Linked DNA regions of Homo sapiens: all the other regions are linked to region 2. Evidence: fine-mapped expression QTL. A gene starts in region 2. Each other region holds a variant in brackets. All regions are shown on one strand. Distances are from middle to middle.

Region 1 (2,763 bases), 33 kb after region 2:
CATAAGACATATTTATATTAAAAGTATTTGTTGTTTATCTGAAATTCAGATTAACTGGATGGTCTTTATTTTATCTCTCAACCCTACCTCTAAGAGTGTAGCCAGAAGTCTAGGGAAAAGCCAGCAACACTTGGACCCTCGATTTCCTCCAAGGCCTTCAATTATCGCTGCACCTCAGTTCTGGGCAGTTGACTCATCAGCTGGGAGAACCACTTGAAAAGCCACTACAAATACAATACCACCAGCTGCAGGACAGTTACTCCCCCTCTTAGTGAAATCTGGTTTGGACCAAAGAAGCAACGCTGGAAACCAGTAAGTTTACCAATGCAATAGCATTGCAGTCTGGCAATGGCAGACTGGCAGTCTGGAGGCATGCCATGTCTTTATTCTCAACTGCATTAAAAGCTTTCACTTCCATTCAGAACACTCCAATGGGAAATAAGTATCATTACTGTTTTCTAGTGGGGGTGGAGAGTATTAAAGAGATGAAGGATGGGCAGCACAGATGGATGAAGGTGGTACACTCAGTATCTGGCAGAGCTGACACCAAAACTCAGACCTCCCATTTCTTATGAGCCAACTCTGAACTTACGAGTCCAGCACTCAAGGCTCTTAACCCAAGACATGTCCACCCATGTCCAGTACATGTGCCTGTGAAATGCTGTTGCCTGCTTAATTCCTAGCCACATGCTCTTTAAATGCATATAATTCAGAGCTAAATATGAACACTATGTGTACAATGTAAAAAGTATGAACCATTTTGTTCTTCAAAGTCCAATCTGAAACTGCAAGGGGATTAGGAGGACTGGGGTAATTCTGGAGGATTTCAAAGCATCTAGTTGAATTGATAGAGGGCATTTTAGAAAATTGTTTTTGTTGGGAGGCCAAGGCGGGCAGATCACCTGAGGTCAGGAGTTCGAGACCAGCCTGGTCAACATGGTGAAACCCTGTCTCTACTAAAAACACAAAAATTCCCTGGATGTGGTGGCGGGTACCTGTAATCCCAGCTACTCGGGAGGCTGAGTCAAGAGAATTGCTCAAACCTGGAAGGTGGAGGTTGCAGTGAGCCGAGATCATGCCACTGCACTCCAGCTTGGGCGACAGAGTAAGACTCTGTTTAAAAAAAAAAATTGTTTTTGTTTTTGTTTGTTTTAATTTGGAACAAACACAGTAGGAAAAGAAAGCAAAGATTAACAGTTGGAGTAAGTGCCTATAGTTCTCGCCCTATAGGCAAGAAGCTAAAACTCTAGAGCCTCAGTTTCCTCATGTATAAAATGAAACAAAGGGCTATGTCATGGGTTTGTTTTGAAAATTAAATGAGATAATGCATGTAAAGCAATTAACATGATTCCTCCGTCAAAAATTTTTTCAAATCTGTGATTAAGTCTAAGAATCATTTTCTTTTTGGCAAAGAACCCCATATGGACATCACATTCTCCAGAGTTTCCTTTCAGCATTTTCAGGCAGCCTCTTGTTCACCCCAACTGTTATCCCCACTGCAGGCAGCTACAATGTTAAGCAGTGCCATTGACTGTTTTCAACAAATGCCCTGGCAATAGGGCTTTTCCCATTAGCAAACTCCAAGTCAGGTTAAATAGCAACATGTCCTATGAATAGGGCT[T/C]TTCCGGGGACCTGCTAGGTAGGTCAAATAGTAATTCTCAGGGGTGGAGCTCCAAATCGACTTTGCTCCCTCCAATGGCTATGAGACAGTTGGTTTTCACAGCTCCACGGCTGCGAGGCTGCTGGATGTCACAGCCCCATGGCTGCAAGGCTGTAGTAGGGAGAAAGGGATTGGAATAGGGCAAGTGAAAACACAAGGCCCACTGTTGTTACTGATATTTAGCCATTTCTCTTGAATAAATGCTGCTTGGATTGTTGCAAGCCATTTGTTAAAAGTTCTGAAAAAATTCATTTGGATATTTTTTGCCATTGTTCTTGTTTCTATAGAGGAGCGGATTTTCTAAGGTCCTTACTCCACCATTCAAGAAGTGCTTTCCTATTTATTTCCTCGGTTATCATTTAATCAAATAGATAAGGAAAAGTGTCCAGAAGTACAGGATTAAAACTACTTTGTCAGATTAAAGACCACGTAAGCAAACAGGCATGTGAGAGGAAGGAGGAGGAGTAGCTTTGCTCCCCACAGCATGGCCTAGGCTTGACCCCTCGATGACCAGGAGCAACAATGTTTCTGGTACATTTTGTCTCTGTTTCTTGTTCTCATGAGTCAGTGACCTGGCCCTAAGACCAACAACCTCCAGCACTGAGGACCACAGCCTTTGGAATGGGACCATTGCCCAGTTATCACCACTGTCACCATTTTCAGCTATAGAAAATATTTATGAAGCACTCATCTGCCCTAGAATCCCAGGTAGGCCTCAAATATCCTCTTGTTAGATGCAGCAAGATTTATGGTTGTCAGAGGTCAATGCACTCATGATGTCCAACTCTAGCGAAAGTAAAAGCTCTTAGAGTCATGGAATCCTGAGTCTAGAAGGGCCCCCAAAGGCCATCTGGTTTCACTATCCATCTTTAGCCTGAGATCCCCTACAACATTCCCATCAAGTGGTTAGTCCCATCTATGCTTGAATACCTTCCGGTGATGGGGAACTTGTAACTTCCTTAGTTGGACTTCTCTAAGCATTGGAAACTTTGTCTTTATTTTGCGGATGAATGGGGAGACATACTCAGAGAATTGAGAAACTGGAGGAAATGAGGAACGGAGGACCAAGATCTTGAAGACAAACCTACAGCTATTCCAGATGA
Region 2 (2,763 bases):
TTATTTAGACTCTATGACAAGCACGCTGACAAGATGCCATCATGTTTCCAGTAAAATAAATTCAACAATGAACCGAAAGATGAATATATTCTCTTGAATCAAAGGTCCATATAAATAGGTGGGGGAGGGGAGGAATGCCCTTCCACTCTTAAAAATTATTCTTCCTAAAAATCACAAAGTTTGGTACGACTCTCAAATAGACGATGAAATTAGGAAATTTCCAACACTGCATTTCTAACTTAAAATATTTTTTCTAAAGTAAAAAAGTACATGTTCGTTGTGTGTGTCAGAAGAAGAAATAGGAACTACAAATAAAAGAAACATGTTTAAATGACCATAATCCCAAATTACTCAGCGATAATTACTTGCTGTCAATCCTTCTTAACTTTTCCATGCATTCATAAATACGATGAGACTGTAAATAAGACAAAAAAAAAACAGACCCCGATAATGATCAAAGATCTTCGGCGCAATAGGCAATGTCTAACAACTTCAATGGCTTTCTTCAGGGGATTCTCAACGGGATTTCTTGATCTTTCCCAAAATGCTGGGAAGCCCTTTAAGTTTAAACAAACAAAACCTCCAAACGGGAAGGGATGCCAACCTCTCCTAGGCTGCCTGCAGAGCGGGGAGAAACAGGTCTATCGGAAGAAGAGTAGAGATACTCACCTAAGGAGACTCCTCTCCCGAAAGGAATCTGCTTCTCAGCCCCACCCCCAGCTCACCCCAATCCCACGTAGGTCCGCAGATGCTCCCCCCGGGAAGGACGGGACGACCCCGCAGCCGCGATTCAACGCGGCGCGCCCGGAAGCCAACAGCTACTCCCGGGCTCTGAGCGGGAAGTCCTGCTGCAGGCGCCAGCCCGGACCCGGGAATGCTCCTCCCTAGGGTAGGGAAGCGCGCGGGCGCAGGCGTTTACCTGTCTCATCTTCCCATGGTTCGGGGCGAGCAGGCGTGGACCGCGCTCTGCGCCTACCTCCCTCCTCCTTCCCCAGGAAGGCTCAGGGCAGCCGCCGACGGCTGCTTCCCCGGTTACTACAACAACCAACAAGCAACCGCCCGCTCGGAGCCACTGCGCAGGCGCTCATAACGCTCAGCTGCGGACGCGGGCGAATGTCGTCACCGCCGCGCAGCGCGGGCGCAGAGCCCTGCCCTCAGCTGAAGGGAGTCTTCTTTTTTTTTTTTTTTTCCGCTGTTTTTTTCTCCGCCCCTAAGAGGTTGACTCCAAACCCGGAGTTCCGCTAGGTCCAACAGGAGGGCTTACGGCGTGAGCGGCGTACCTGGGGAGAGGCTTAGGCAGCGGCAACCGCTGATTGGCAGTAAAGGGGTTCACTCCCCATCTCCTGCTCGGGCGAAACCGGGACAGCCAATCAGAGAGAGTACTGACGGAAACGGCCCAATCCTGGAGCAGGGCTGAGGGAGGGGGCGGGGACAAATGGCTCAGGTGGACTCCGGGCTGGAGCTGTCCTGGGGGAGCTTGTTTGCGGCAGCGGCTGCTGCTGCCACTGCTGTGCTGGGGGCCCGGTCGCCAGGTAAGGAGAATATGGGGGAGAAGAGGGATGTAGGTGTCTGTGTTGCTTCTGATTGAGAGGATCCGGAGAGTCTGGAAAAATGGAGGTGGGATGGAAGGAAGATAACTGGAAGGCAACCTTTTGGGGGGAAAAGGTTTCGAGAGGCGATGACAAGGGGGAGCTAGGAAGATGGAGAAGGCTTGGTGAATTCAAGGAACGAAGGAATGGATGAGCGAATGAGCAGCCACTATGAGCCTAGCACTGTACAAAGAGCCTTCACTTTTTGTCATATAATTCTTACAATAGCCCTTCGGGTTGATATTTCTATCTCCATTTTGCAGATGAGGAAACCGAGACTGAAAAGTGTAAATGACTTACCCAGGGTCACACAGCTACTAAGTGGTAGGGCCAGGATAAGAATCCCTTTCTCCTGATTAAGTTTTAACAGCACACCTATGCTGGGCTGGGCTTGGCTGGGCTGGGCCAGGGCCAGGACAAAATTTGGAAATAGATGTTGTATACACTCTAAGAGGCCCTTAAGCTTTAGGGAAATTAGGTTGAGAAATTGGCAGAGCAATTCAGAAGTGCTCAGGCTCTGTCCTCATCAGCTATCTGTTGGGATTTCTAACAGATAACACTTCTGTGAAATGGAAGGCATACTTGTGCAGAAAAGTGGAGAGGTGCATCCATGCAGCTTTTCTAAACCCCGGAGGAGTCTCCTCTTGAGAGAGAGTGAGAAAATAAAGAGGATGGGTGGATCTTGGCCCAAATGATAATGGCCTGTGATGTCCAGTAGACCCTCAGTCTCTCTGATCTTCGACAGAGACCACCTTTGTGATCCAGCTCTCCCTGAAGGGCTCATCAATTCACCCTTCCTTCTCTAGATCTCTTTATTGCTTGTTTGGGGCGGGGAGTTGGCGGGGGGGGGCGGCGGTGTTTCACACTGTCTTGGGCCATTGCTGACTTTAATATCTGTCCCACTGGGTAGCAGAGAACAATACCGAAACTTGTATTGCCAAAGTGACAAAGAAAGCCTGTTAGTTTATTACCACTTCAGGCCCAAGAGGTTAACCTGACAACAGATAAACCGTGGACCAAGAAAATAATAATGAGGATGGGAAAAAGTCATTCCATTATTAGATTATTTATCTATTTTGGTTTTATTTAAATCAGACTAACTGAAATTACTACTCAACAAGAGTTGAACTAAGCCTTAAAAAAAAAAAAAAAAAGGCTGGGTGCTGTAGCTCAC
Region 3 (2,763 bases), 54 kb before region 2:
CATATCACCCTTCACTAGAGTGGTTTTCCCAAGAGGCATATCCAAGTGTGTGAAAAAAAAAAGAAGGCCACAAGTTTATTTTCATATGACTTACAAATTATTTACATATGCTTACTCAGACTATGAAGTCAACATGAATTTTCACCACATTAAAGGTCAGCATTAAAAAACTTTCCTCTTCTCTGTTTCTTCTCATCCACCCACTATCTCCACTCCCTAATTCCCTGTACCAGAAATATACAAGAGCCAAAGAAAGAATAGTGAAAAGAAAAAAAACCCCAAACCCAAAAAACTAAAATAAACAAACATGAGGCTAGGAAAAAGGATGTGGACAAAGAGAAAATGATGACTAGGCTAAAAGACAAGAGTTTGATGAGCATTATTATGTCTGTGCTTGAGAAGGACCCCAGATTTTCTAGAAACTTCCAACTTCCAGTAGTTATCACTTAACTTCTAGCCATGTCACACCCCAGTGCCCTGGTGAGTAACCCTTGCCTATGCATCCCAATCTTCCTCTAATAGATTGTCCAAGCAAGTTGCAGACTGTCATTCTCTGAATTCTTGTGAGATGCAAAGGGGCCCCGTGCTGGCTGCCTGCCTCAGCCAGACATTACCTCAAGGTGACATCCCTCCTGTCATCCTCTCCCCTCAAAGAACAATGAATTAGAAGGAGGGGAAAGCTTCTGCTTCAGAAAAAGAGGCTTTTCATCTCTTGTAGTTACTACAAGTACTTGATCTAACTTGGTCAACATGAAAAGCCTGACAAAAGTCTGTGGTGAGCTGGAATCGGGTACCAACACATTTGTCATTCCTATATTCTTTTTTTCAAGAGGGCTGCACATCTAAAAAAAAAAAAAATCATGTTTCTTCTTCCTAATCTTCCTTTTCACTGGAGCATTTTATTCTGAACCCCAGCAAGGATAAGATTTCTAATATCAAAGCGTGGAATTCTAAACTGAGTGTATGAAGCAGAAGCAGCAAAAATTAAAGTGAAACAAAAAAGCTTAAAGGAAAAGTTCCCCTGAAGGGTGAAAGTGCTCCACTCCATATCTCCCTCAGTCTAGTGGGGAACATACACTATGGAGAGAAAAGGTGTGCATGTTCATCTTTCCTCCTACCCCAGTAAGAGCTTATAGCTCTCACTAAAATCCATAGTAAATAAGCCATCATCATCATCTGACCACTATTTTCTTTTTTATTGTCTAGACCACAGGTCACATTAGTCTTGAATGTGACCTACTGGTCAAGTTCTGATTAACCTACAAAAGCTTTGTTTTTTCTTTTAAACTTTAATTACCTGAACAACATATAAAAATCAGACCTTCCTTCTTGCAGCCCAG[G/T]GGTAGCCAGGGCCCACATGAGGAAGATGGTGAGTTACAAAAAAAAAAAAAAAAAAAAAAGGAAGATGGTGAGTAGGGTGGGAAGTCAGCCAGAAGCACAAGGAGGTTTTCTAAGCAGGGAGGCCACCAAATAAGGGTATAAATCCATATAAAAACGGCATCTGAATGGGACAGTGGCCCAGTGGGGTCAGGAAACTGGCCACATACAAAGGAATTGAGCAAATAAATAAATATGTTAAAGATACTGCGAGCCAGATTTCCTGCTGTTGGAAAAGAGATTTTAAAATATGAAAAGCAAAAAACAAGAAGGAACTCTGTAGTTTTGAACTAGAATTGTGCGTACTAGTATAAACTTCTATTTTTCAACAATACATTAGAGACAGATATAGAAATACAGATGTACAAGTGTATATGTACATAAATACATAATTTCCTAACTCTGCTCATGGCCAGGGTCTGAAAGCAGAAATGCCCCAAAACAATGAGCGTATCTAGCACCCAGATATTGATTTCTAAATATTATACTCCAAGAAAAAGCAACCAGTGCTCCTTGGAGAAATGGTTGATTCCAGGGATAGAATAGAGAAAGAACAAGATGAGCCTGAAACATCTTGTGCTCAAAGAATGATAAAGACATGTCAAAAGGACACAAAGCCAGCTTGAGAGGTCTCCCACTGGCCAAATCTGGGACAATTTGAGCATCAAAATAAATCATGATAGTAAAGAATTATAACCCATTAAATAAAACAGGAACGCTTGAGTCTGCATTGGTATAAATAAATAGATGAATAAATAAACGAGAAGATAAAGCTCTTCCTCACAGAAAAATGCCAAGAAATAAAAGTTATGATGGAATTAAAAAATCATCATTTGGCAACTATTACAGCAATAATTCATTAAGGCAAGAAAAATCAATAGATTTTTCTTAAAAATGAGAAATGAGATGAAGAATGAAATTTTACATGATTTAAAGTATCTCCTTATAAAATACTTACTAATTACAAAGGGTAAGACCAAATAATTTTACAGTGGAGGAATCTAGCAGATGACCTAAAGCAAATGGTCAAACACCACTAAATGACTAGCATGTGCCATCACATATAATGCAATGACAAGAATTAGTATCACTTTTGTGGTATTCTGGCCCCAAATGCATTACCTAGGTCTCTTCATGAGAAAATATCAGACAAGCCCAAACTGAGGGACAATCCACAAAATGACTGGCCTGTAATCTTCAAAAATGCTGAGATCATGAAAGTCAAAGAAAGACTAAGGAACTGTTTCAGACTGAAGGAGACTACGGAGACCCGACGGCTAAATACAACATGTGATCCTTGATTGGATCCTTTTGTAATTAAAAAAAAAAAAAATCTTAGGACAATTGGCAGAATTGGAATGAGATCTCTAGACATAGGGTAAAAGG

The links.
Region 1: its variant is fine-mapped to the expression of TTLL5 in tibial artery (GTEx, PIP above 0.99).
Region 3: its variant is fine-mapped to the expression of TTLL5 in whole blood (GTEx, PIP above 0.99).

What each region holds. Positions count from the first base shown.
Region 1 is chr14:75,626,490-75,629,252 of GRCh38, reverse strand. All of the region lies in intron 3 of FLVCR2 (FLVCR choline and putative heme transporter 2), which reads right to left. Among named protein-coding and RNA genes, the nearest start is that of ERG28, 33 kb to the left of the region's middle. The variant T/C (reference allele first, on the strand shown) is at 1,622.
Region 2 is chr14:75,659,544-75,662,306 of GRCh38, reverse strand. It overlaps TTLL5 (tubulin tyrosine ligase like 5), which reads right to left and starts at 1,061. Exons shown (of 32, transcript NM_015072.5): 1 at 920-1,061. ERG28 (ergosterol biosynthesis 28 homolog) reads left to right here and starts at 1,431. Exons shown (of 5, transcript NM_007176.4): 1 at 1,431-1,532. RefSeq lists an enhancer at 990-1,209 and a silencer at 1,320-1,369.
Region 3 is chr14:75,713,902-75,716,664 of GRCh38, reverse strand. The region is part of intron 9 of TTLL5 (tubulin tyrosine ligase like 5); the gene reads right to left. Among named protein-coding and RNA genes, the nearest start is that of TTLL5, 54 kb to the right of the region's middle. The variant G/T (reference allele first, on the strand shown) is at 1,341.